7 linked regions of the Homo sapiens genome follow. The protein of the gene in region 3 purifies or fractionates together with the protein of the main gene of each other region. This does not show direct contact. Each region holds a gene or a part of one and is shown on either strand. Other genes may lie near its edges. The genes, in order: PSTPIP2, MAN1B1, SLC22A13, ATP2B1, ACAA2, CPT2 and CTSB.

Region 1 (3,500 bases), on a different chromosome or scaffold from region 3:
GGGCGGGGGTAGTAGGGGTCGTAGATAGAAAGTAAGAACTGCTGGTTTTGTTTTTTGCTTTTTGGGTTTTTTTGAGATGGAGTCTAACTCTGTTGCCCAGGCTAGAGTGTAGTGGCATGATCTCAGCTCACTGAAACCTCCACCTCCCGGGCTCAAGTGATTTTCCCACCTCAGCCTCCCAAGTAGCTGGGATTACAGGTGCTTGCCACCACATCCAGCTAATTTTTGTATTTTTAGTAGAGACTGGGTTTCACTATGTTGTCCAGACTGGTCTTGAACTCCTGACCTCAGGTGATCTGCCTGCCTTGGCCTCCCAAAGTGCTGGGATTACAGGCATTAGCAGCCACCATGCCTGGCTGAACTGGTGGGTTTTAAAGCTAGGAGAGAGTTGAGTCTGTGTGCAAGATAACAGAAGTTGACAAGTTCTCCATGCCCAAGAAGGTGGGGAAAGGCAAGCTGGATGAAAAAAGATCTTGAACAAGGAAGGAACAGCCCCTTTTCTGTGCTAACAGGAAAAAAGGAGTGGGGCAGGCGTGTCTGTCAATGATTCTTATACTTGAATTCCCATCAAAATCACTTGGAAGGCTTATTAGCACAGAGATTGCTGGGCTTTACCCCCAGAGTTTCTGATTCGGTAGGTCTGAGGTTGGTCTGAGAACCTGCATTTCTAACAAGTTCCCAGGTGATGCTGATGCTACCAGTCCTAGGACCTCACTTTGAGAACCACTGGAAGAAAATGTGTAGGCAGGATGACAGAAACTTAAGCAAGCTTCCAAGTTATGTTTTTTATTTTCTCTTGGAAATTGTGAGGTCATTTGCTGCAAAAGAAAGGGAGCAGTGGTGAAATTGAAGGTATGAGGAGAGTAAAAAAAAAAAAGAAAACCCTCCAGCCAGGCATGGTGGCTCATGCCTGTAACCCTGGCAACTCAGGAGGCAAAGGTGGAAGGATTGCTTGAGACCCAGGAGCTCAAGACCAGCCTGGGCAACAGAGCAAGTCCCTGTCTCTTTAAAAATAAAATAAATAATAAATAATTAACAAGGCGTGGTGGTGCACGCCTGTAGTCCCATCTACTTCACTTGAGCTCATGGGGTTTCAGGCTGCAGTGAGCTCTGATCATGCCACTGCACTCCAGCCTGGGCGACAGAGTGAGACCCAGACTCAAAACAAAAAGCAAACAAACAAATCTCCAAAGCCTACTCACTTGCTGTTGGCATTCCCTTTAGAGCCTATTGAGGCCGGGCTCTCCAAAGATAATTACTTAATCGACCATTAACTGATTCAGCTATTCTATGCTTGTGCTAACCCAACATTAGACTAAAATTTGAACTGTTGGACAGCATGGTCAGGATGGGGATGAGGCAGACAAGGTTTGGGGAAAACTATTCCAGTTCCTTCCATTCTTCACTTAAATTTCTGATTTCTTTTTTTGTTTGTTTGTTTTCTTGGAGACGGAGTCTTGTTCTGTCGCCCAGGCTGGAGTGCAATGGCACTATCTTGGCTCACTGCAACTTCCGCCTCCCAGGTTCAAGCTATACTCCTGCCTCAGCCTCTAGAATAGCTGGGATTACAGGTGTGCGCCACCACACCCGGCTAATTTTTGTATTTTTAGTAGAGACAGGGTTTCACCATGTTGGCCAGATGGTCTTGAACTCCTGACCTCAGGTGATCCACCCACCTCGGCCTCCCAAAGTGCTGGGATTACAGGCATGGGCCACCGTGCCTGGCCAAATTTCTGATTTCTAATTTGCCCTCAAGCTCTGTAACCCTATGAGAATCCGGGCAGATCATTTCTACAAAAGTAGACTCTCCAGGTTCTGGGCAGAAGACCCACCTCCCGCCCCCTCGTCCTCCCCCAACCCCCGGCCCCACTCCCCCTTCCCTCCCTCCCCTCCCCCTCCTCCCCTCCCCCCCCCGTCCTGAGCAGCTTCCTGTTACACACACCCCCACCCACCCACCCCAGTCCTGAGCAGCTTCCGGTTACGGGTACCTCGCAGGCCTTGATGTGCTCACTCTGCCACTCTTCTCGGACCTTATCCAGGGTGCCGATGTGCAGCATGTATGCTTTGTCTGCAACAGAAGGGAGAGACCTGGGTCAGAAACTAGACAGGAAGGTGGCTCGCAGATACACCCACAGGCTGGTCTCAGATGGCAAAAGAAACTCATCCGAGTTGTGCTGAGCTTACAAGGCCCCCAGGACTCTGAGCACTGGGAGTTATTGCATCTCTCACCCTCATCATATTTGGTGAAGTAGGCAAAGGAGGGTATCACTTTCTTTTTAAACATTGGACCTAACATTGAGAAAGAAAGGTTCTAAGGAAGAAGTGAAAGCTGATAAGAAACCTCAGCCAGGGTTTTGTTTGTGTAATTCCACCTCAGTATTTCCCATCGCTTTTCATTTTCAAAATTGTCTGATGAAGGATGCAGAGAAGAGAACTACCTTGAGCCCTAAAGGGGCACCAAGTTACTTTAGTTTCAAATGTAGAGATTAAGATGTACATAACCACCACAGTCATGAGGGATATTTCCTGCAGGATATTCTGGGAATTAGAAGCTTTTGCAAATGCCTGGTTTGGGTCTTAGATTTCAGTGATAACAAGGCCTTGCAGCTTGGCTGTTTCACAGCAGATAAGAGCTACCGGGGCTGAAATGGTCTTTTAGATAGATGCCCCAATACATCAGAGGAAGCACCTGATTGCAAAGCCGCTACCACATGACTCCACCATCTCACTCCCATGTAAGGCAGCAAGATCTAAGCAGACAGAAGCCAGAAACAGTGGCCTCATAGCCTCCTCCCACCTTCCGGGGTTCTAATATACCCTCCCTTCCTCTCTCCTCTTCTTTCCTTTCCTCCCTCCCTTCCTTACTCTCTCCCTTCCTTCCTCCCTTTTTCCCTTCAGATATCTCACTAATCCTGCTGAATATCCATATATTCTCTCTTTAAGGTATATAAAACTCCCTTTCTCAGGGACACATTTAGGATAACGTAAACCCCACCAGCAACCCTCCCCCATCCGTAGGAACTGCCCCCTCACCTGAGTCCTCTACTGCGGTCTTTGAAGTTGCCAGTTTCACAAAAAGCTGTGAAAACAAACAAACAAACAAAAAAAGAGCAAGCATTGGGAATGCTGGACGAGGCTTCCACAGGCAAAACAGATTGAAAAGCAGTAACTATGAAGAGACCAGGTCTAGTGCAAGTCCTGTGTACATTTCCCTCATGAGCAAATCATTCAACGTGCCCTGCAATCTTATCAATCTTGGAAAATATCCATAAAGCATCTTGCCCAGTGTCTTCCTAAAGACACACCCAGCCCTCTGGTTGCAGAAATCTTGTATCTAGATTTTACAAAGTTAAATTTGTAATCCACCCAAGCAAAAGGCAGCCTGACTACAAAGAATACATGAACTGAGTCTTTAAGAAAAATGACAACAACTGGGAAATCCCTCCAACCTCTTATCACCCCATCTCCCTCCCTCATAGCCATGCTTCTGTCGCTCTTCC
Region 2 (2,850 bases), on a different chromosome or scaffold from region 3:
TCTTCCGGAAGTGAAGGTGATGGATTTTTCACAGGGGAGAGCGAGGGGGCGTGGTCCTAAGAGGTCACCTGGTTCAGGGTCGGGGGGAACCCAGCCAAGGCCCAGGGTCAGCCCTGGGATAGGGACAGCAGTAGAGTGATGATGAGGACAACTCTGCCACCACAGCCCAGGGCTCGGGGCCATAGCCATGCCAGGCTGCTGGGAGCTGCCTGACCTGAGGGCCCGTGTATCCCTCAGCTGTGCGCCTCAGTGCCAGCCCTGCAGGGAAACAGGCCCTGTGTGAAACGCAGGCGCAAGGATGCCTCCCGCCAAGCATCTGCCCCGTGGGGCCAGGGACACGGAGCTTCCCCGTGGCCTCTCCCTGCCCACCAGCAGGGGACAGCTAGAGTCCAGTCTCAGCAAACCGAATTCTGAGACGTGACTTGAAGAATACCTTCTCCCCAACGTCCGCCCAGACTTTCCAGTCATGGAGATCCCTAAAGACACAGGCGACATCGCGGTTAGAGCAAATCAACTTTTATCTCCACCGAAAAGACCCATTCCACTGGAGGGGCCCGTGAGCTAGACGGACTTGCCGTCCAGCCCTCCAAGCCCCCTGCGGGGCGGCCAGGAGGATCCCTGAGTCCAGCTTGTAAACACCAGAGCCAGCCCTGGAGCCTCAGGCCTCTGGAGTCACGGCAGCCCCTCCAGACCCTTGGATTGGGGACATCTGAGGCTTCACGAGCCCGGGCAGAGCTGCACCCTGGGCTGTCCACTCGGTCACCCCAGTACCAGGGACCACCTCGAAGCCCCCCTCTGGTCGGCCCACAGAGACCTGCTCAGGCTTCAGCAATCGTGAGTCATGATTCGTGTCTTCTGGAGGAAGCAGGCGGAGGCTCCAGCGGCCCAGCCCACCCCGCATCACACCAAGACTGACGGCCTCACTTGTCCTCACGGTGTCCTGATTAAAGCAGAGACGAGGAGGAGCCCAGAGCCAGTTCAGAGCCTGGGCCACTTGGCGGTTGCCGGTGCTACGTGGGCCCTTGGAAAATGCCACAGACCCAGCAAGGTGCCTCTGCCCACCCGAAGTCCCCACACCAGCAGCCATCCACCCTAGGCAGGGGTCCAGATAGGCAGAGGGTGGGCTTCGGTGTTGAACACGTAGGCATCCAGGCTGAGCAGGTTTGGGTCATCGGAGAAGAGCAAGAACAGATACTTGAGCGTCTCCCCCAGGAAGAAGCTCTCCATCTTGTCCCTAGGCTCGGGCTTCTGAGGATCCTGGACATTGTTGATGGAAGAATAGCCACCCGAGGGGACCTGTGCAGCAGCCAGGGCCTCGTCACCACACGGGGGGCACCCTGCACCCCCCTCAGCCTCATCACCGAAGCGCTCTCCACCCCATGGTGAATGTGGCCCCCAGCGCAAGCTCAGGGTGGAGGGCGCCTGGATGATGGCCACCCCCAGGCGAGCCGTGTGGTTCCACCGGAGCCCACCTGGAAATGCCAACAACCCTCAAGTGACCACGACAGAAACCGCCTCCCCCAGAACCTGGGCTCAGGGGGCCTCACAGTTGCCGCACAGGGCACAGGGCACAGGGCAGACGGTGGGAGCGGAGGCAGCGGGGGCCTCAGGCCAAGATCACAGCAGAGCCAGGAAGTGACACTCTGGCGTGGAGGGCGTGACCTAAAACAGGGCCTGGTCCACAGTGGGGATGGTGCCCCAGTCATGGGTGCGTGTGCCTCCTAAACTGGGGGGATGCTGGGCCCACAGCAGAGACCCTCCCTAGACAGGCCCTGAGAAATGAAAATGAGGGGTGCCCAGCCCCTCCAAGTACTCTGGGTCCCACAACCATGAAGCTCAGTGGGGATGGGGATGCCAGGGCCCCCAAGCTGCAGTGTGGCCACCCCGAGGCTGCGGCAAGCCCGCCCCTCCCGGATCCAGGTCACAGCCACCACCAAGAGCGGAGCCAGCCTGAGCCCCACAGCCCAGCCGTGCCTGTGGCCCGGTGGCCGTGACCACGCGGGGCGAGGACAGGTGCTCACCCGTGTGAATCGGCTGAAGCTCTGCAGAATCTCCCAGCCCCAGTCCTGGTATTTGCGGTCCCCTGTGACGCGGTACAGGTAGAACAGGCTCTCCACGGTCTCTGGCCGCAGCAGGTTGTGCCTGTCTGCTGGCTGTGGGCGGAGCAGAGCTCAGGGCAAGGCCAGCCCTGCCAGCACCCTCCTCCTGATGGACCCTGACCCAGGCCCAGGCCCACCTTGACCTCCACGTCCCGACGGCCCGGCTGGGGGTAAAGGTTGAAGTGCACGATCTCGGGACTCAGCCCCGTCTCCATCTGCCGGTTCATCTGGTAACAAGTCTCCATGAGCTCCTGGGCCAGCTCCATGTGGCTGGCGGGCAGGCCGTGGTAGACGCCCAGAGCCAGCGTCCCTGGCAGGAAGCACACCAGGTGGTCCTGGAATCAGAGGGTCTCTTCAGCCCCAGATCCCAGGCCCTGCCCTCAGCCTGCAGCTGCACGGGCAGCCAACGTGGGAGCCCAGCGCTGCCTCGGCCCTGGTACCCTGGGAGGGGAGGCCACGCGAGGGCACTTGGCATGGAACAGCGGAGCTGCCTGGACCAGGCCCTCCAACCCGGCCCCCACACACCGCCCGAGGACCTGCTACACACCGGGCACGGGGAGGGAGCTGCCCTGGGGAAGCCCTGCCCACCCCAGGTGCCACACAAGGCCTTACTGCCCTGTTGCCAAGACAGGCCTGGCCAGGCAGCCACGGTCCACCCAGGGCCTCCACGTGGGCGCCATGGCCAGGATTTCGTTCTTTTTGACATCATGACTCAGGCACCTTGGAAGCCAAGGTAAAAGGGGCGGCGGCC
Region 3 (3,500 bases):
TGCTGGCCTCTGTGCTCACAAAGCTCTCACCTGGTGGCAGACAGCTCAGACACAAGGGGGTGAAGTGCCCTGTGGGCATGAGCACCAAGCCTTGGAGTCTTCTAAGGCTGGCACACCTGGTCAACAGCCACCATTCACTACCTCTCTTCAGTTTATATACCTGCTATGACATTAAATCCTCATTCTAACCCCATAATGGCTTATCATTCCCCTTGTGCAGCAGCAGAGACTGAGGCTTGGAGAGGCGCCGAGATATGCCTGAGCTCTCATGGTGTTGTCATGTTGCAGGTGGTAGAGATGAAGAGGGCTCCAACTTGGGATGCCAGTCATCCTCCCCAGCCCCAACACCCACAGTGGATGGTTCTGTCTGCAGCCTGCCATGGTGGTCTGCAGAATCCCACCCTCATTTCTTGGCGTATACCCCATCCCGGATCCCTCCCCTATTCCAAAACCTTCAACAGCTCCCTTTGGCCTCTAGGAGAAAGCCCAAATTCCTTAGCACTATATCTAAGGCCCTTGAAGAGCTAGCTGTTGCCTATTTCCCAGTCTCTTTTGCCATGTCAGCATTCCTAAATATGCCAGGCATTTTCACGCCTCCAGACCCCAGAAATGGTTGTTCTTTCTGCTTCCCCTTCTCTCCTATTCCTACTTCTTTGGTCGCTGGACAGATCACATGATTGTTGCTATTCATTGATGGTCTTCCCACCTTCCCATTCCAAGGTCCACGTAGACAGGGGAGTCATTTTTTTTTTTTTTTTTTTTTTTTTTTGAGAAAGCGTCTCCCCAGGCTGGAGTGCAGTGGCATGAATACGGCTTACTACTAGCTCAAACGATTGTCCTACTTCAGCCTCTGGAGTAGCTGAGACTATAGGCATGTGCCACCATGCCTGGCTGATTATTTTATTTTTTTGTAGAGATGAGGTCTCACTATATTGCCCAGGCTGGTCTTGAACTCTTGGGCTCAAGTGATCCTCCTGCCTCAGCCTCCCAAAGTGTTGGGATTACAGGCACGAGCCACTGCACCCAGCCCATTTTTTTTCTTTTACCAAGGGTGGACGCCCAGGAAATGTAGGTTGAAAAGGAGAAACATATTCTGACCTTCAAGAGCACACAGCCTATATGGAAATATACTTTTCTCTTTTCAAATTAGTATTGTTTGCATTTAAGTTTAAATATGAAGTCACCATTTATAATAAAGAAGCTTAGGTGTCAGCTCAGAGAGGGTCCTCTGGGTCAATGGGCAGAACCCTTCCTCATAGATGAAAACCAGAGATAGAAGATCACACAAAGCCAGCTGCACTCTGGAACTGAGCTTGGGATTAGCATGTGGTGCAGGGCACAAAGCATTCATTTCCTTGGGAGTCACAGTCTTTGGAAGAGTTGGGGTGAGGAGAGCATGTTAGGGTAGAGTGAGAGGCCCAAGTTCCAACTGCAATGCCAGCACTGTCTAGGAGAGAGGTCCTGAGTGCCGCCATGCCCCAGGGAGAAGCTGAGGTCAACATCAAGTTCGAAATATTTAAAGTAAATACAAAACTATTTCAGCAATGCAGACCATTAAGTGTGCTGTTGTAAGCAATGATGCCATTGGTAAAACATACCGATATCCTACACAACAAACAAATTTACATCTGAAAATGTACCAACTATTTCTAACAACTATGTGGTCATGGTTATGGTTGGTGGAGAGCCATATGCTCTTGGACTTTTTGACACTTCTGGGCAAGAGGGTTATAAAAGATTGCAATTGCTAAGTATCTACAAACAGATGTATTTCTAGTCAGTTTTTCAGTGGTATCTCCGTCCTCATTCAAAAATGTGAAAGAAAAGTGGGTGCCTGTGATAACTCACCGCTATCCAAAGATTCCTTTCTTGCTTGTCGAGACCCAAATTCATCTCAGAGAATGATCCCTCTACTCTTGTAAAACTTGCCAAGAACAAAAAACAGAAGCCTATCACTCCAGACTGGCCTCGGACTGGAAGGCTGTTGAGTATGCAGAGCATTCTGCACTCACAGAGAAGGGCCTAAAGAATGCAGTTAACCGAACTAGAAACACCATTCGACCCAGCCATCCCATTACTGGGTATATACCCAAAGGACTATAAATCATGCTGCTATAAAGACACATGCACAAGTATGTTTACTGCGGCATTATTCACAATAGCAAAGACTTGGAACCAACCCAAATGTCCAAAAATGATAGACTGGATTAAGAAAATGTGGCACATATACACCATGGAATACTATGCAGCCATAAAAAATGAGGAGTTCATGTCCTTTGTAGGGACATGGATGAAATTGGAAATTATCATTCTCAGTAAACTATCGCAAGAACAAAAAACCAAACACCGTATATTCTCACTCATAGGTGGGAATTGAACAATGAGAACACATGGACACAGGAAGGGGAACATCACACTCTGGGGACTGTTGTGGGGTGGGGGGAGGGGGGAGGGGATAGCTGTAGGAGATATACCTAATGCTAAATGACGAGTTAATGGGTGCAGCACACCAGTATGGCACATGTATACAAATGTAACTAACCTGCACATGGTGCACATGTACCCTAAAACTTAAAGTATAATAATAATAAAATAAAATAAAAAAAGAATGCTGTTAACCAAGCCTCCAGAGCCAAAGAAGAGAGAGCCTCAGGCATGTGCTGCTGTGAACATCTCTCCAAAGCCCTTTCAGCTCAGCTTTTGTCGCCATCACACTAAAAGCAAGGTTTAAGTCAAACTAAGAATTAAAAATTAGGCCAGGCGCGGTGGCTCACACCTGTAATCCCAGCACTTTGGGAGGCTGAGGCGGGTGGATCACCTGAGGTCAGGACTTCGAGACCACTCTGGCCAACATGGTGAAACCCCATCTCTACTAAAAATATAAAAATTAGCCGGGCATGGTGGTGCATGCCTGTAGTCCCAGCTACTTGATAGGCTGAGGTCAGAGAATCACTTGAACCCAGGAGGTGGAGGTTGCAGTGAGCCCAGATCTCGCCACTGCACTCCAGCCTGGGTGACAGAGCAAGACCCTGTCTCAAAAAAAAAAAAATTGAAGTTCATTCTCTGCAATAATGACAAATGCCTAATCCTACCAACATATACTCTTGCAAGACAAGGCTCATAGGTATGGTTCCCTTCCCCATCCTAATACTAGTTACTTTTGAATCATTGTTTATTGTCAGAAAAGTGATCAGTACTCGTTTGTTCTGTTGCTTCAAAAAATTTTTTTGTTTGCTTAAAAGCAAGGCATGCTTGTAATGACTCTCTAGTACACTAATGCTAATTGTTAAGCTGCTCCTTGGTTCCCCTCGAGAGTAACATGGGACATCTTAATGCTGTTTTTTTTGTTTGTTTGTTTGTTTGTTTGTTTTGCGGGTGTTTGTGTGTGAGGAGTTTATTTTTTAGTCTTTTAAAAAATTTATTAACCAGTGGACAGTCCTTAAAGGGAGGAGGACAGATTGATTCCACATTCCACTTCCTAGATCTAGTTTAGAAAACAC
Region 4 (3,145 bases), on a different chromosome or scaffold from region 3:
AATACACTGTTCAGGACCATGCTTGGGTACTACTGATGATCCACAGGTCACTTACGCTGAGTTACTGTTTATCTGTCAGTTCATTTCTCCCACCCCCCAAAAAGCACCCTCAGTCTGGCAGAAAGCTTTGCTTTTTTTTTTTTAAAAAAATAAATCTACATTCGTACAAGTGTGTCTTCTGTTGAAGTCCAAAGACAAGAATACTAGCTTGTCCATCACAATATGTGAAAAGACCCAGTTTCAATTTGTTTCTTTACAATGCAGCTAGTGTGTTAACATTCAGCTTACAATCAGAGTGATGTTTCCAAACTATGTAGTGGGCTTCCTGGGGATGAAGAGGTAGCAGACTTGTTCATTTCTATTGTAAGGTGAATTCCACTGTCAACAGCATTGTTATTTTTGTTGGGAGAGGGTGGAGGACTGGAGTTACGTTTTGTAGGAGCATCATCTTCGGCATCAGTGTCATCAATAAGGGGGATATGAGGCTCTGAATCTTCTATCCTAAACTCAGGATGTGTCATAAAGTTGTGAATCGAACTTCTTGATTCCGGTTTTTCTAACCCTTCATATAAAGAACTACGAAATGCATTCACCACTCGAATCTGTAAATATCAGAAAATACAGAAATATGTCAGTACACTATTAACAACTTAAAAATGGTTCATTTATGAGTTTGAATCCACAAACAGCTAGGTATGAGTGAATCATATTTGCATGTAATGCAGTGGAACTTGCAATACACTGTAAAAAAATGAATATTTTAGTAAGACACTACAGAACAACAAAACCACATACTCTAAGAATTAAGAGGTAAAGAATTCAAAGTAATATTAAGAAAATCTCATTGTCATTGGCTAAAAATTTAATAGCCATTTTATAGGATTTTTTCCCTAAAAGAACAAATCAAACACAAAACAAAACAAAAACTTAACCATACACAAGCTTAGCTGATTTTTTAAATTAAAAAGAATGTATTTTGAAAACAACTCAAATAAGTTAAACAAAATCAAGCACAAAGGGTTACTATTTATCATGCTAGGAATTAGGGTGTCACCGACCATGAAAAAGCCAAGCAAATATAAGCTGAATGCCACAATGAACTCACATCTACCCCACTACTCCCTTAATTAAAAACAAAAATAAGAACAAAACCCAAATAAATGTCTATAAAATGCCATTAAACAGCTATAAATATTTGAGTATATGCCATTTGTCTATCATTTGTCTATAAAGTTTTAGTGTTTTTCTCTGTAACAGATTAAAACTTAAATCAATTACTACAGTTATCTGGAAAGAATAGATCAAAAACAAAAACAAATCCTCTGGGATTCTTCTGTGAAAAATTTCCCAAGAAGACACAAAGTGTTAAAAGTTTTCTAGTATTTTCACCCCTAAGCAGATAGCTCAACAATTCATCTTCCTCTCAGTCTGCTGTATAAATGAAAAAGATTAGTGGGCAATCAAACTTAAAAACATCAGTGCACACACTGACATTAAGTGCTATTAACTCAAGCGTCATTCAGATTTAGAAAAAAAAGGACAAAATCCAACTAGTTGAGCATTTACTATGTATCAATTCAAATACAGTGTTTGCTTTTGCTTTGATTCTAATAAATCCTGTTTAGTAATAAAGACATCATTTACTCATTGTTAAGAGAAATAAATAACACTTTGACATTCTAGAAAAAAGATGCGGTCACCAAATTCATCTCTTTAGACAGCAATAATGAATAATACATTTCTTCAAATGAACATGTGAATGTGTTTAAAAAAATGTAATGTAGAGTTTAGGGCCATGCACCCACATCTCACCTTCAAGTTGTCTTTCCTTATTTGCCAAGCCCTATTTGTAAGCTGCTTTTAGTCCATATTCACTTAGCCCTTTATATAGAGAGTACAGCATAGTCAACTGAGAAATACAAAAGCAAAATGTCTGGGTGTAAATTCCAGCTCTGCCACTTACTACCTGAGGAACCTCGGTCAAACAGGTTTCTTCAACTATAAAATGGGAAATAGCAATGGTACTTGCCTTACGGGGTTGTTGTGGGAGATTAAATTCGTTAGCACACTACAAACTTAAAACAATGTTAGGTCACAAGTATCGAGGCCAGGGCTTCTCGAACTTTAATGTGCATACAAATTAGTTGGGGATCTTGTTAAAATGCAGATTCTGATTCAGCAGGGGCCTAAAGTCCTGCATTTCTAACAACCTCCAAGGTGATGCTAAAGCTGCTGGTCCATGATCCACACTTGGAGCAGCAAGCATCTATTCTATTAATGTCTTGCAGCTTTACCATCTTTTATAATTCCATTCTATTTGATTGCTTGTACTTCAGTTCCTTAATTTGACTGATGAATAGCAGCAAATATTTTTCAACTTCTTTTATTGCTCTTGTTCCTCTTCCCCTTTACTAAGATGTAAAGTGTTCTACATATGGAATGTAAACAATGTTTGCTAAATATAACGTTATAGTAATTCATTCAGTGTTTTATTGTGAAGTCTTAAAATTCACATTTTATACATGTGAACATTCAGCAAGTATCCTGACTGTCCTAATAACAAACTGTAAAGCTTAAAATGCAAAAAGATAACTTTCTAAAAAAAAATTTGTTGGTATCAGCAGCCCGTAGGCACGGAGGAGAATACAAATTAGAGGATCAGCCAGCAAACTTGATGGGTGATGAGAACTGTTCAAGACAACCCTGAAGATGTTGCTTATTTGATAAGGTTGCTGGTGCTGCTGCTACTGAAGATAGAACAACAGTTAAGCTTTCTGTGTATGTGTGTGTTTTCCATCTGTTTTTCTTTGTAATCAGTCGGTATAAAAGTGAGCAGTGAAGAATCGGGGGGAAATAAATGTACTTTTTAAACATGTTAAATTTGGAAAATATCTAGAGCTCAGAAGAAAAGTGTAAACTTAAGTTAGAGATTTGAGAGTTAGTGAAGCTCTAAGAGGGGCAGAGTGTAAAGGTGAGGGCAACAAGTATATGTGCACACACAATCACACACATACACCGGTGGCAGGCAAAGAAAGATTAAATCCCTTCTTAGCAAAACTTCAATTCTGAGAAGATTTTTCCTATCTGAATTTGTTGAACAATATTAGAGATTTTTTTTTTCTAACCACTTCATAAATAATAAAAC
Region 5 (3,500 bases), on a different chromosome or scaffold from region 3:
AGTACTGTATTATCATATGATCTTAATTCAGGAATTTTATAGATAAGGAAACTCATTCTAAGAAAGGTAACTTTTGCAGAGTTGGGATAAAATTCAGTCTTGTGCTCTTTCCTACTATACTTTGTGGTCTCTCAAGATGGTGCCTCATATGTGCTTAGATCCACCATTATCTTTCTACTCTATATACAGAGCCATCTTCAAGGAGGTACTAAGAGACCTAGAATAGGTAGTGAAACTAGGCTTTTGAACCTAGGAAAACTATGGTCTGAGTTATGTCCTTGAGAATGTATACATTTCCAAATGATTATGAACAACTTCCCAAAGTTGATATAGTTTAATAGTTTTAAATGTGAGGTCTAAAGTGAGAAATTTAGTGGTACCTATTTGCTGACACAAATATAATAAATTAAACAGCCTCTTTGAGGCTCTGAACTGTGATCTGCTAAAAGTGGAAGAGATTTAAAGATAAACCATTTGTCTGAAATCATGGTTTCCTGTGTGAGAGATTATCATAGAGGAAATCACACCTGTGCCTACCCCTTCGCTATCAAGTTAAATAGATTTCCTTTGTTCTATTAGTTATTTCCCAATGCCAGGCATCACATGCTTAATCACCTAAAATTTTCAAATAAATATTCCAAAAGTGTGGAATGTATATAACCATCTTTAAATGTTTCTCCACCTCTTCTTTTAATTATGCTTAAGACACTTTAGTTCTAATACTAACATTTAAAAAGAAATCACTCAATAAATTTAAGTTCCAGTGTCAAAAATTATGATAGGTGCATCCCAAATCAAGCTACAACTATCGTATAAAAGCCAAAGATACATTTAAGGGAGGGGGCTCTATCTGGCGAGAAGGGCAAGAAACTTGTAGATTTGGCACTAAATATTGCTTTTCTATTATGTCAATTATTTTACATATATTTTTTCACTTTAATATTCAACAGGCATGTTAATAGTCTAAAATGTAACAGTTTTATAAAGTAGTAAGAAATTCCCAGGAATTTATACTTGAGTAAGAGAAATCAGGCAGTTTGAATATTCAAATATAAATAAAGCATGTTAACCAGGTGGGGAAAAGTATCAACACAAGGCATCTAATGAAGGTACTATTTATTTAGATGTACATCATTTGGAAAGGCTAACTACAATGAAATTCAAAGAGCAATGAGACCAAATTAAAGTCATTTATGCTATAAAAGTACATGGTTTATTCATGTTGTTAAAAAAAAAAAAAAAAAAAAAAACACTTACCTCTACCAAATCCATGTCCTTAAGACTCAGTCCTGCTTTCTTCAGTGCCCCACTGATAGCAGGGACAGGACCTATATAATAATAAAAATCTTCTATAAAAATATAGAAATAAATGTCATCTTATATTTACGTATCAAGCTTCTCCTTCTTTCCAAGTAAGGAAGAAATAATGCGGCAGTTATTAGTAGCCACAAATCTTACTACCTTGACCGTACCTATTAAATGAAGTGACCATAAAGAGGCAGAAAAAGGGCCCAGGCATGGTGGCTCATGCCTGTAATCTCAGTACTTTGGGAGGCTGAAGTGGGAGGATCACTTTAGCCTCCTGGGCAACACAGCAAGACCCCATCTCTAAAAAAGAAAAAAAATAATAATAAAAATAAAATGGAACCAAGGTGAAAAGTTGTTTATACATTCAAACTGCAGATAAGAGAATTACATGAAAAGTTCTACCATAAACGGCTTTAAGATTGAAAACAGCCAAAGGAGTCCATATATGGGATTTTAGTTATGTTAATAGATTATAATTGATATCAAAGAGCAAGGCAGACTGAGTGCTCTACTTGGGATCCAAGCCATATGCATTCACAGCACAGAAGTTACTGTGGCTACACTCTGAATTTTCAGGCCCATTTGGATAAAAGACAAGAAATAGCAGTATCTCCACATGGGCACAGAGAGATGGGAAACTACGAGGCACTTCAGGGAAGGTTTTATGAAGTAAGGTGATGTTTACAACTCCAAGGGTAGGCAGGAAATTTAAATAAAACATAACTCCTAATTTAAGAAATGCAACTCCATCTAATAAGACTTCTGAAATAAACTTTAGCTCCCAGATTTCTGATGATGTAATGAGAGTTTAATATTGCTCATAATTTAAATCCATATTTTTTCTCAAAAGGTAAAAAATTTGGGTAGAGAAGATTATCTACTTCTCGACTTGTTCTTAAAGAATGAAACTGCCAAAAATGTCTACAAAGAAAAATATGTAGTATGTTCTGCTGAATTCAAGTAGTCAAATATTCTGCATCAAGTTTCACAAGCATTTTACCTTATAAAATGGAAAATCAGTCTTTACAAGAAAGGCATAATGAAACCTAAATATAATATTTATTTTGTCACGTAGTTAAAATACTCTTTGGACAACAAACCACGTGCTTATTGATTAGGACTATCCAGTTAATGCACTTCAATTTAAAATGCCAGTTTCATGTGGCTACTGATTTACTACAGCTACTGATTTACTACAGGATCTGATTCCAGATTCTCTTTGTATGTCTAAAGCATGAAATCATGAAAATGAGATGGGTAGTCAGTAGTAAAGCATCAGTTATCCAGCCTGGTGAGGGGATGAAGTAGCCAACAGTGGTGACAGACACATAAAAGGTGGACAATGTTCAGACCACTGTACACACTTCCTTGTCTGCATAAACAACACAGCAAGCATGACTCGTACTTTCACTTTAACTCAGAATCCACCGTAACAATATGCTAGGCCATAACTCGATTTTTAAAGGACTCTTCCCAGACCACTGTTATTTACTGGGACTTCAGGAAGGTTTAGTATTCTTGTTAGGAAAAGGAGACCTTATTTCTAGTCCTGGTTCCTGTCACTAATAGCTGTGCGACTTTGTGCATCTCTCTGGGCAACAAGCTACTCATCAATAGCACTCTGAATGGGTTTTCCACCTTTTTCTCTTTAAGCATCAGAATTCTTTTTGCATATGATGCCAAGTAATAGATAATGCCAGACTGCTCCAGCTGAAGAGGCTCAAAGTTCCACCCACCAACCTCTACCATTGCCACCCCTGAGGAGTTCCAGGGAGTGCTGTCTTTCTATAGCTGTGTATTTCCTCAGAACCAGTACTATTCTTTTCAAGTCATGGCTTTCCCCGTTTTTTTTTGGTCTGCAGCTATTCTGCAGGGCTAAGGATTGCTAGTCATTAGGTAATCATGGAACTGAGAACCACTATTCTTGTAAGTTAGATTAACAAACCAGTTCCCACTAGATACTTAATAACTTATTCTCCCCACTTATTCATCTGGGATGCTTCAACGAGTTACTTTGTTTAATCCCATCACTATATACAAGTGACAGCCAAACTTCTAGATGAAGGGGGCAGCTGATACTGTGGGACATCTGGAATGTACAGCTCTGTTCAAGCCCCGAGGAAAAATGACAATCCTACCACAGGAGCATTCTTTGTACTTTAGGGCAAATATTCAGGCCCAGGAACAGAAGG
Region 6 (3,500 bases), on a different chromosome or scaffold from region 3:
GCTGTGAAAATAAGGGGATAGGAAGTATGTGTATACACATCCCACATATGTGGTGGGATGTAAAGTACTGCTGAATTCTAATCTTCTACAGTGAGATGTCAATAGCTAATGACTAAAGCAAAAAAATCAAGATGCAGTAAGGTAAGTATCTAATTTAGAGATACGGGGGTATATAACAAAAGATTTAGGAGCTGAAAGTGAGAAGTGGGAAATAAGATGATGAGGAAGTTGCTGTTTTTCCTAACAAGCCTTATAGAACTGTCTGATTCTTTAAACTATATGCATGTATAACCTTGGTAAATATATAAACTAAATTAAAAGAAGTGCTGTAGGAACAGAGGTGGAAGCAACCAACTCTGAATGGAAAGGAAAAAGGACTGAGAAGGTTTCACAGAAAACCATCCTCCTTGGATCTTAAAAGAAGAATTTGCCAGGCAAAAAAATGGTAGTGGGAACAGCATGGATAAAGGCACAAAAGAATGAAAGACTAAGGGTTCAGGGAGCAATGAGGAGTTTAGCAGGAAGTATGTCAGGGTGGGTGGTGAGAGAAGAGGCTGGAGAGGACAGTTCTGTCTGACAGTGAAGGACCCAGAATGATATAGGACATAGGACTTAATCCTGCATCCTTTTCAGACAGGACCATTGATTAGGTTCTGCCTCAATCCCATCTACAGAGAAGGCTGGCCATCATTCTTGAGCATGGGCTCAAGTCAACACCTCAGTAGAGGAGGAACACACTCAGCCTTAATTTACCTCAGGAAGGGAGGATGAGACGTTACTTCATTTGCTGGTCTCACCAAAAATATCTCTGAGACCAAAACAGGAGAGAATATGCCTTACTTTTCATTATGGAGGGCTCTGGGAGAAATCATACCCACAGCCCAGCCTACCTACCCGAAATGTAGCTTGTATGTTTATTCTGTTTGTCCAGAGCAACCAGCTGCTCATGCAGTTCTTTTCCAATCCCATTTTCAAAACTCTTGCAAAATTGTTCTGTTTTCCTAAAACATTCAAGAAAAGACAAAATCAAACCATGGTAGGGAATACATGATTTTTAGGTTCATGGCGAGGAACTCATAATAGAGTTTTGGGTCCCCAACAGCATAGCCCTAAAACCTGGAATGAGATCAGAAAGTACCTCTAACCAGAACAGGAATCAATCTAAAATTGATAATCTAGACTACCTTCTTAAAATGAATGATTAGGAAAATCAATCAACATCTCACAAAATAATCCATATCCTAGGAGGCAGTTTGGCATGGAGAAAAGGACACAAGCTCTGGAGTCAACAGAAGTTAAGTCTGAATCCTAGCTCTGTTGCTTTTCAAACTGTGTGATCTTGGATAAGTTACTTGATCTGAGTCTCGGTTTCTTGATGTGTAAAATGGATAATAATACCACTTTACAAGATTAAAAATATTTATAAAGCTAAGGATTTAGAATATCCTAAAACATAATACTCAATAACTGGTAGCTATTACCATATCAAGAGAAACTTTAAATGACTAATAACAAATATTTGAAAACAGAGGCCTAGATTATGGATAATTCATCTGCTTCTCCATCACTGTCCAGTGAAGAGTTCTGTGATTCCAACAACAATGCCAGTTACCTGTACAGAAAAATTTCCATTATGGAAAAAGAGTACTACACTAGGCTATAAGAGCTTAATGCAATCCACTTTTTGACAATATTTGATATTATTTTCCAATTCCATGCTGTATTTGCTTCCTAGGACTGCTATAACAAAACACCACAAACTGGGTGGCTGAAAACAACAGAAATTTATTCTCTCACAGTTCTGGAAGCTTTAAGGACAAAATCCAGGTGTCAGTAGGACTATATCTTCTCTGAAGACTGGGGAAGAATCTGTTGCATGGCTTTCTCTTAGATTCTGGTGTTGCCAGCAATCCCTGGCATGCCTTGGCTTGTTGACACAGGCAGAGGACACAATCTCTGCCTGTGTCCTCACACCGCTGTCTCTGTGTCTTCTTACAAGGACACCAGTCATATTTAATTAAGGACCCACAATACTCCAGTAGGACCTCATCTTAACTAATTACATCTGCCACAACCCTAATTCCAAATAAGATCATATACTAAATTTCATGAAAAAGGGCATAAATTTTGGAGGCATGCTATCCAACTCAATAAACATGCTCACGATGCAGACTTCTGGTCTGCCGTATGGTCTCCTCAATGGACCTCCCTTCCAAGGGTACATGCTCTCTATAAATGACCAGGACCAGCGAGCCTCCCAGGTACACCTGCTAAGGGAAAGTACACATTTGGCATTCTGGCTTATAAACTATCTCCTGTTGAGCCTGTTTAGAGGAACTCTCGGGGCTTGGTCAGTCCTTCATGAATGAAAATCTATTTCCTGAACTTGCAGATGTACAACTAGGTTCTGGGTTCCTGGAGACCCAGCCACGTCACAGACATTCCCTGAAGCTTGGTCCACCACTACTTGCCAGCCTGTCTTGAACCACCCCAACTATGCTCACCCAAGGTTCTCAGTGTTTACCTGAACTGGCCATCATTCAAGAGAGGCTTCTGTGCACTGAGGTATCTCCTAATGGTGTCTTCAAGTTTGGGAATAGGCAGCCTGGGGAGAAAGCAGGGTCAGTGTAAGGCTGACAGTATATGGAAGAGGTTAATTAGCTTTACAAGCTAATGAACTGATTACTAGATCATTAATTTCCTCCCCCAAAACCAATAATCAGAAGCGACTGACAAATCAGAATCAATGGGTTTACTAATGCCAAGTATATCAATGGTAACTCTACTTTTAAGTAAAATAACAACTAAATCTTTAAGTAAAATACAAATATAATTATTTTAAATAACAATAATAGATTCAAAATGGGGAAGCAGAAGCTGCCCCAAGAATTCCTGTTTTCTGGTCACAATGATAACACCTGTGCTAACACTGTATTGGCCCTGATTTAATTCTACCCTTAGTTTGAACAACTGCATTTTTCTCCCCTAGGATAAAATGAAAAGGTTCTATTTTTTAAATTTTCTTCTGCATTTTACAACAAATAATTATATAAGAGTGAAACACAGATCTGTCCAAGGGCCAGCCATATATGGGGGCTACAGTCACTAAAAGGTAGGAATCGACCAGTGAGCCATGCCCAGATACCAGGAACGCCATTAGGAAGAACCAAATAGTCCCTGTGCTTAAATAACAGGAACAGCAATTTGCCTACTTATCATTCTGTCTACTAGTGATTCCCAAAGATGGCTATGGTGATGAAGTTACTGGCTTATTGTGAAATGAAAACACATGGACAGTAAAGTGAGGTGTATTTTCTCTTTCAATTCATTGGTTTTATTGAAGGAAATATCCCCTAATAGCAAAACAATCAGAGTTTGTTAGGCTGCCTCTACCAACTCAAAATTAACACTGATATGCAAAATACTGAAATGTATCAGTCATTTAGGAAAACTGAAACATGATACATAAAGCAGTTTAAAAGCCTAATATAAGATATACT
Region 7 (3,500 bases), on a different chromosome or scaffold from region 3:
TCGTGTCTCAGGTGGCAGTCAAGAATGAAATGAGGAGGACCAAAGCGCCGGCACATGCCTGGCATGCAGTGATAAGGTAGGAAGGGCACTCGCTCCAGCGGGCTCTGTTCCCTCCCTCTCTCCTCTAACACTTCTAGCTCTCAGTTCACACTAAACCTATTCCAATAGGTCCCCAACGCCAGGAAGAGTCTAAATGAAAACAAGTTTGTTTTTTTTGTTTGTTTTAAGACAGGATCTCACTCTGTTGCCCAGGCTGGAGTGCAGTGGCACGATCATGGCTCACTGCAAACTCTGCCTCCTGGGCTCAAGAGATCTGCTCCCCTCAGCCTCCTAAGGAGCTGGGACTACAGGCATACACCACTACGCCCAGCTTTGTATTTTTTGTAGAGATGGGGTTTTGCTATGTTGCCCAGGCTGGTCTCAAACTCCTGGACTCAAGTGATCTGCCCGCCTTGGCCTCCCAAAGTGTCGGGATTATAGGTGTGAGCCACCATGCCCAGTAAAACAAGCTCTTAACTTCAATTAACCCCAGCATTTAACATCCAAAAATGCTTCCACTCTTGAGGGTCCCGAGACTGCTGAGAACTCAAAAAGTGTCAAGCCAAACACAGAGGTCCTGACAGCAGTGGCAATCTCACTCCATTGTGCAACAGGCGCCTTTCTCTCCACAACAACGCAAATCTCAATCACTCTGGACAAATGCAGATGGTGAAAGTGACAAGCTGAGCTGTTAACAGCTTTCCAGGGTCTTTGCATGGGACAGCAACCCATTTTCACTTCCCTTTATATAGGCACCCACTTCCCTTTTATTTCTTAATTCTGTGCTTTCTGCTCTGCTTCTTACAAGAGATGATGAACACAAAGTCCTTATTTCACGAGGGAAGGATGTGAACTCTTGTGTGCCACAAGACCCCTTTCCAGGATGCGGGCTGGTGGAAGAACAGCTGCGAGCAGATGTCATCTCTAGACCTTGGTCTGCTGTGCTGCTTAGGCAGACCTGAGTTCCAGTGCACCCCTCTGCCCCTTTTCCAAGCTAATCTTTGGGTTAAAAAAAACAGAAAAGGGTGCTCCTCATATCCTCTCTCTCCAAACCTGCAGAGCACTTATGAGAAAGCACGCTCCACCCCGGCTCTGTAGAACGTTGTTATGTGCCAAAAAGAGTGTGCGGCCAGGCGACTCTATCAACCAGAGCACCTTCCTCCCCCGGCAAACGGCACCCTAGACTACCTTGAAGCCGTTTCCAGGACAAATAGGGACCTTGCGATCCTGGAAGGAGGTGGAATGAAAGTCAAAGGAGAGGAGGTGCGGCTAAGTCACAGGAGGTGTTAAGTCCTGACACCCTTAAAGAATCAGTTTTGGGCTGCCACCAAGCTCAATAAAGAAGGCTTTCTGGCCAGGCACAGTGGCTCATGCCTGTAATCCCAGCGCTTTGGGAGGTCAAGGCAGGCGGATCACCTGAGGTCAGGAGTTCGAGACCAGCCTGTCTCTACTAAACAAGGTGAAACTCCTGTCTCTACTAAAAATACAAAAATTAGCCAGGCACGGTGGTGGGTGCCTGTAATCCCACCTACTTGGGAGGCTGAGGCAGGAGAATCACTTGAATCCAGGAAGCGGAGGTTGCAGTAAGCTGAGGTCACACCACTGCACTCCAGCCTGGGCAACAGAGCGAGACTCTGTCTCAAAAAAAAAAAAAAAAAAAAAAAAAGGCCGGACACAATGGCTCACGCATGTAATCCCAGCACTTTGGGAGGCTGAGGCAGGCGGATCACGAGGTCAGGAGTTCAAGACCAGCCTGGCCAACATGGTGAAACCCTGTCTCTACTAAAAATACAAAACTCAGCCGGGCATGGTGGTGCTGCCTGTAGTCCCAGCTACTCAGGAAGCTGAGGCAGGAAAATTGCTTGAACCCAGGAGGCAGAGGTTGCAGTGAGCCAAGATCACACCACTGCACTCCAGCCTGGGCGACAGAGCAACACTCTGTCTCAGAGAAAAAAAAAGAAAGAAAAAGCTTTCTTACATGGTCACAGAGCCCTCAGGTAGACTGCACTTTAAATCTGTAAAGGATTTAAGGAGACAGGATATGTACACTTAAAATTTCCAAATAAGCCAAGTTGCTAGCTCCTGGCTGATAGACAAAAAAAGTGAAAGAATTCTTAGCAAAGCTGTCATGCAGTATTTTGCTCTTCCTCATTCGTTGGTGCTGTGGCTATACTGCTGGCTCCTCTCATAGTCAGCTCTAAAGAATTGAAAGTTGGCCGGGCACAGTGGCACACACCTGTAATCCCAGCACTTTGGGAGGCCAAGGAGGTGGATCACCTGAGGTCAGGAGTTCGAGACCAGCCTGGCTAACATGGTGAAATCCCATTTCTACTAAAAATACAAAAAATTAGCCAGGCGTGGTGGTTGTGCACCTATAATCCCAACTACTCGGGAGGCTGAAGCAGGACAATTGCTTGAACCCAGGAGGTGGAGGCTGCAGTGGGCTGAGATCGCACCATTGCACTCCACCTTGGGCAACAAGAGGGAAACTCCGTCTCAAAAAAACAAAACAAAACAAAACAAAAACAAAAGTCAAGTGCTTACATTTTGCCAGAAGCCACAAATGAAGACTGTGCCTTATAGGCCAGCAGAGCGGCTAAGAGCACGGGAACAGTGGAAAGGTGGGGAGACTGTGAAGGCTCAGTAAGACCTTCCCAGAGTACTTTGTTTCTTTCTCTTCTATAAAAACTAGTCTTGGCACTCACCGCTAATAACGGCAGTTGCTCCTGAAGTTTTGACCACTTAAGTGCAACCACAAAACAAGACTTCGGCGAGTTTCATCTTCCCCTACTTCAACCTGCCAGACACACCTCAATGCTGGAGCAGCCCTGCACTGGGTGGGAGTGTGCTGACCTCAACTATGCTCTGTTGTGACCCAGAGACCTTTCCTTTTTGAGTATGAATCACAGCCTTGCTGTGGCCTCTGATGTGTTACGTCTTTGCCCCTAATGGAACTGTGTTTAGTAGATTCTTGGCTTATGATTAAATTAAGGACAAAAACAAAATCCAAAGGGCTCTCAGGCCTCGGTCTCATCAGTCCCCTGATGAACGGGCACCAGAGGCCCATCTGTCCCATGGAGCAGGCTCCCTGCAGCTGTAGCCCCGAAGCAACTGAAAACCTGTCAGAAAACCCACCCAGCACACAGGTGTGCAGAGGCAGCAGTGATGCTCACCAGCCTTGGAGGCTTCCAGGGAACCAGGGGAAGCAGAGAAGCCCCACTCCACCTCCCTCACCTGAACCAGGTTGGCCACTCACAGGTCCTTCCCCGTGCTGCCCACCTGCCAATCATCTATGCAAACCAGGTACTGCAGGCCCAGCCCACGCAAGCTGCTCTCCATAGGCCTGAAGACACCTATGAGTGGAATATTGTACAAGGTCAGCCACAGCAACCCCACATCCTGCAGACAAAATGACTACTGTACACTTGAAACAGCAGACACTACGAAGGCCCTCAGCAGTT

The links.
Region 1: the proteins of SLC22A13 (region 3) and PSTPIP2 purify together in Homo sapiens (affinity purification with mass spectrometry; one large-scale study listed by BioGRID and IntAct). This does not show direct contact.
Region 2: the proteins of SLC22A13 (region 3) and MAN1B1 purify together in Homo sapiens (affinity purification with mass spectrometry; one large-scale study listed by BioGRID and IntAct). This does not show direct contact.
Region 4: the proteins of SLC22A13 (region 3) and ATP2B1 purify together in Homo sapiens (affinity purification with mass spectrometry; one large-scale study listed by BioGRID and IntAct). This does not show direct contact.
Region 5: the proteins of SLC22A13 (region 3) and ACAA2 purify together in Homo sapiens (affinity purification with mass spectrometry; one large-scale study listed by BioGRID and IntAct). This does not show direct contact.
Region 6: the proteins of SLC22A13 (region 3) and CPT2 purify together in Homo sapiens (affinity purification with mass spectrometry; one large-scale study listed by BioGRID and IntAct). This does not show direct contact.
Region 7: the proteins of SLC22A13 (region 3) and CTSB purify together in Homo sapiens (affinity purification with mass spectrometry; one large-scale study listed by BioGRID and IntAct). This does not show direct contact.

What each region holds. Positions count from the first base shown.
Region 1 is NC_000018.10:45,995,761-45,999,260, forward strand, and holds part of PSTPIP2 (proline-serine-threonine phosphatase-interacting protein 2), read right to left. Parts: intron 3,080-3,500; coding exon 3,034-3,079; intron 2,069-3,033; coding exon 1,989-2,068; intron 1-1,988. UniProt on the Homo sapiens protein: Binds to F-actin. May be involved in regulation of the actin cytoskeleton.
Region 2 is NC_000009.12:137,106,834-137,109,683, reverse strand, and holds the end of MAN1B1 (endoplasmic reticulum mannosyl-oligosaccharide 1,2-alpha-mannosidase), read right to left. Parts: intron 2,435-2,850; coding exon 2,237-2,434; intron 2,154-2,236; coding exon 2,022-2,153; coding exon of another isoform or gene 1,722-2,021; exon of another isoform or gene 1,306-1,721; intron 1,297-1,305; coding exon 1,093-1,296; 3' UTR 501-1,092; downstream 1-500. UniProt on the Homo sapiens protein: Involved in glycoprotein quality control targeting of misfolded glycoproteins for degradation.
Region 3 is NC_000003.12:38,268,812-38,272,311, reverse strand, and holds part of SLC22A13 (solute carrier family 22 member 13), read right to left. Parts: intron 1-3,500. UniProt on the Homo sapiens protein: Anion antiporter that mediates the transport of urate, orotate and nicotinate in exchange for organic or inorganic anions. Translocates urate and orotate across the apical membrane of proximal tubule epithelial cells and involved in urate renal reabsorption.
Region 4 is NC_000012.12:89,590,694-89,593,838, forward strand, and holds part of ATP2B1 (plasma membrane calcium-transporting ATPase 1), read right to left. Parts: intron 603-3,145; coding exon 291-602; 3' UTR 1-290. UniProt on the Homo sapiens protein: Catalyzes the hydrolysis of ATP coupled with the transport of calcium from the cytoplasm to the extracellular space thereby maintaining intracellular calcium homeostasis.
Region 5 is NC_000018.10:49,786,034-49,789,533, forward strand, and holds part of ACAA2 (3-ketoacyl-CoA thiolase, mitochondrial), read right to left. Parts: intron 1,329-3,500; coding exon 1,258-1,328; intron 1-1,257. UniProt on the Homo sapiens protein: In the production of energy from fats, this is one of the enzymes that catalyzes the last step of the mitochondrial beta-oxidation pathway, an aerobic process breaking down fatty acids into acetyl-CoA.
Region 6 is NC_000001.11:53,199,824-53,203,323, reverse strand, and holds part of CPT2 (carnitine O-palmitoyltransferase 2, mitochondrial isoform 1 precursor), read right to left. Parts: intron 2,606-3,500; coding exon 2,525-2,605; intron 1,002-2,524; coding exon 895-1,001; intron 1-894. UniProt on the Homo sapiens protein: Involved in the intramitochondrial synthesis of acylcarnitines from accumulated acyl-CoA metabolites.
Region 7 is NC_000008.11:11,858,088-11,861,587, forward strand, and holds part of CTSB (cathepsin B isoform 1 preproprotein), read right to left. Parts: intron 3,393-3,500; exon of another isoform or gene 3,274-3,392; intron 1-3,273. UniProt on the Homo sapiens protein: Thiol protease which is believed to participate in intracellular degradation and turnover of proteins. Cleaves matrix extracellular phosphoglycoprotein MEPE. Involved in the solubilization of cross-linked TG/thyroglobulin in the thyroid follicle lumen.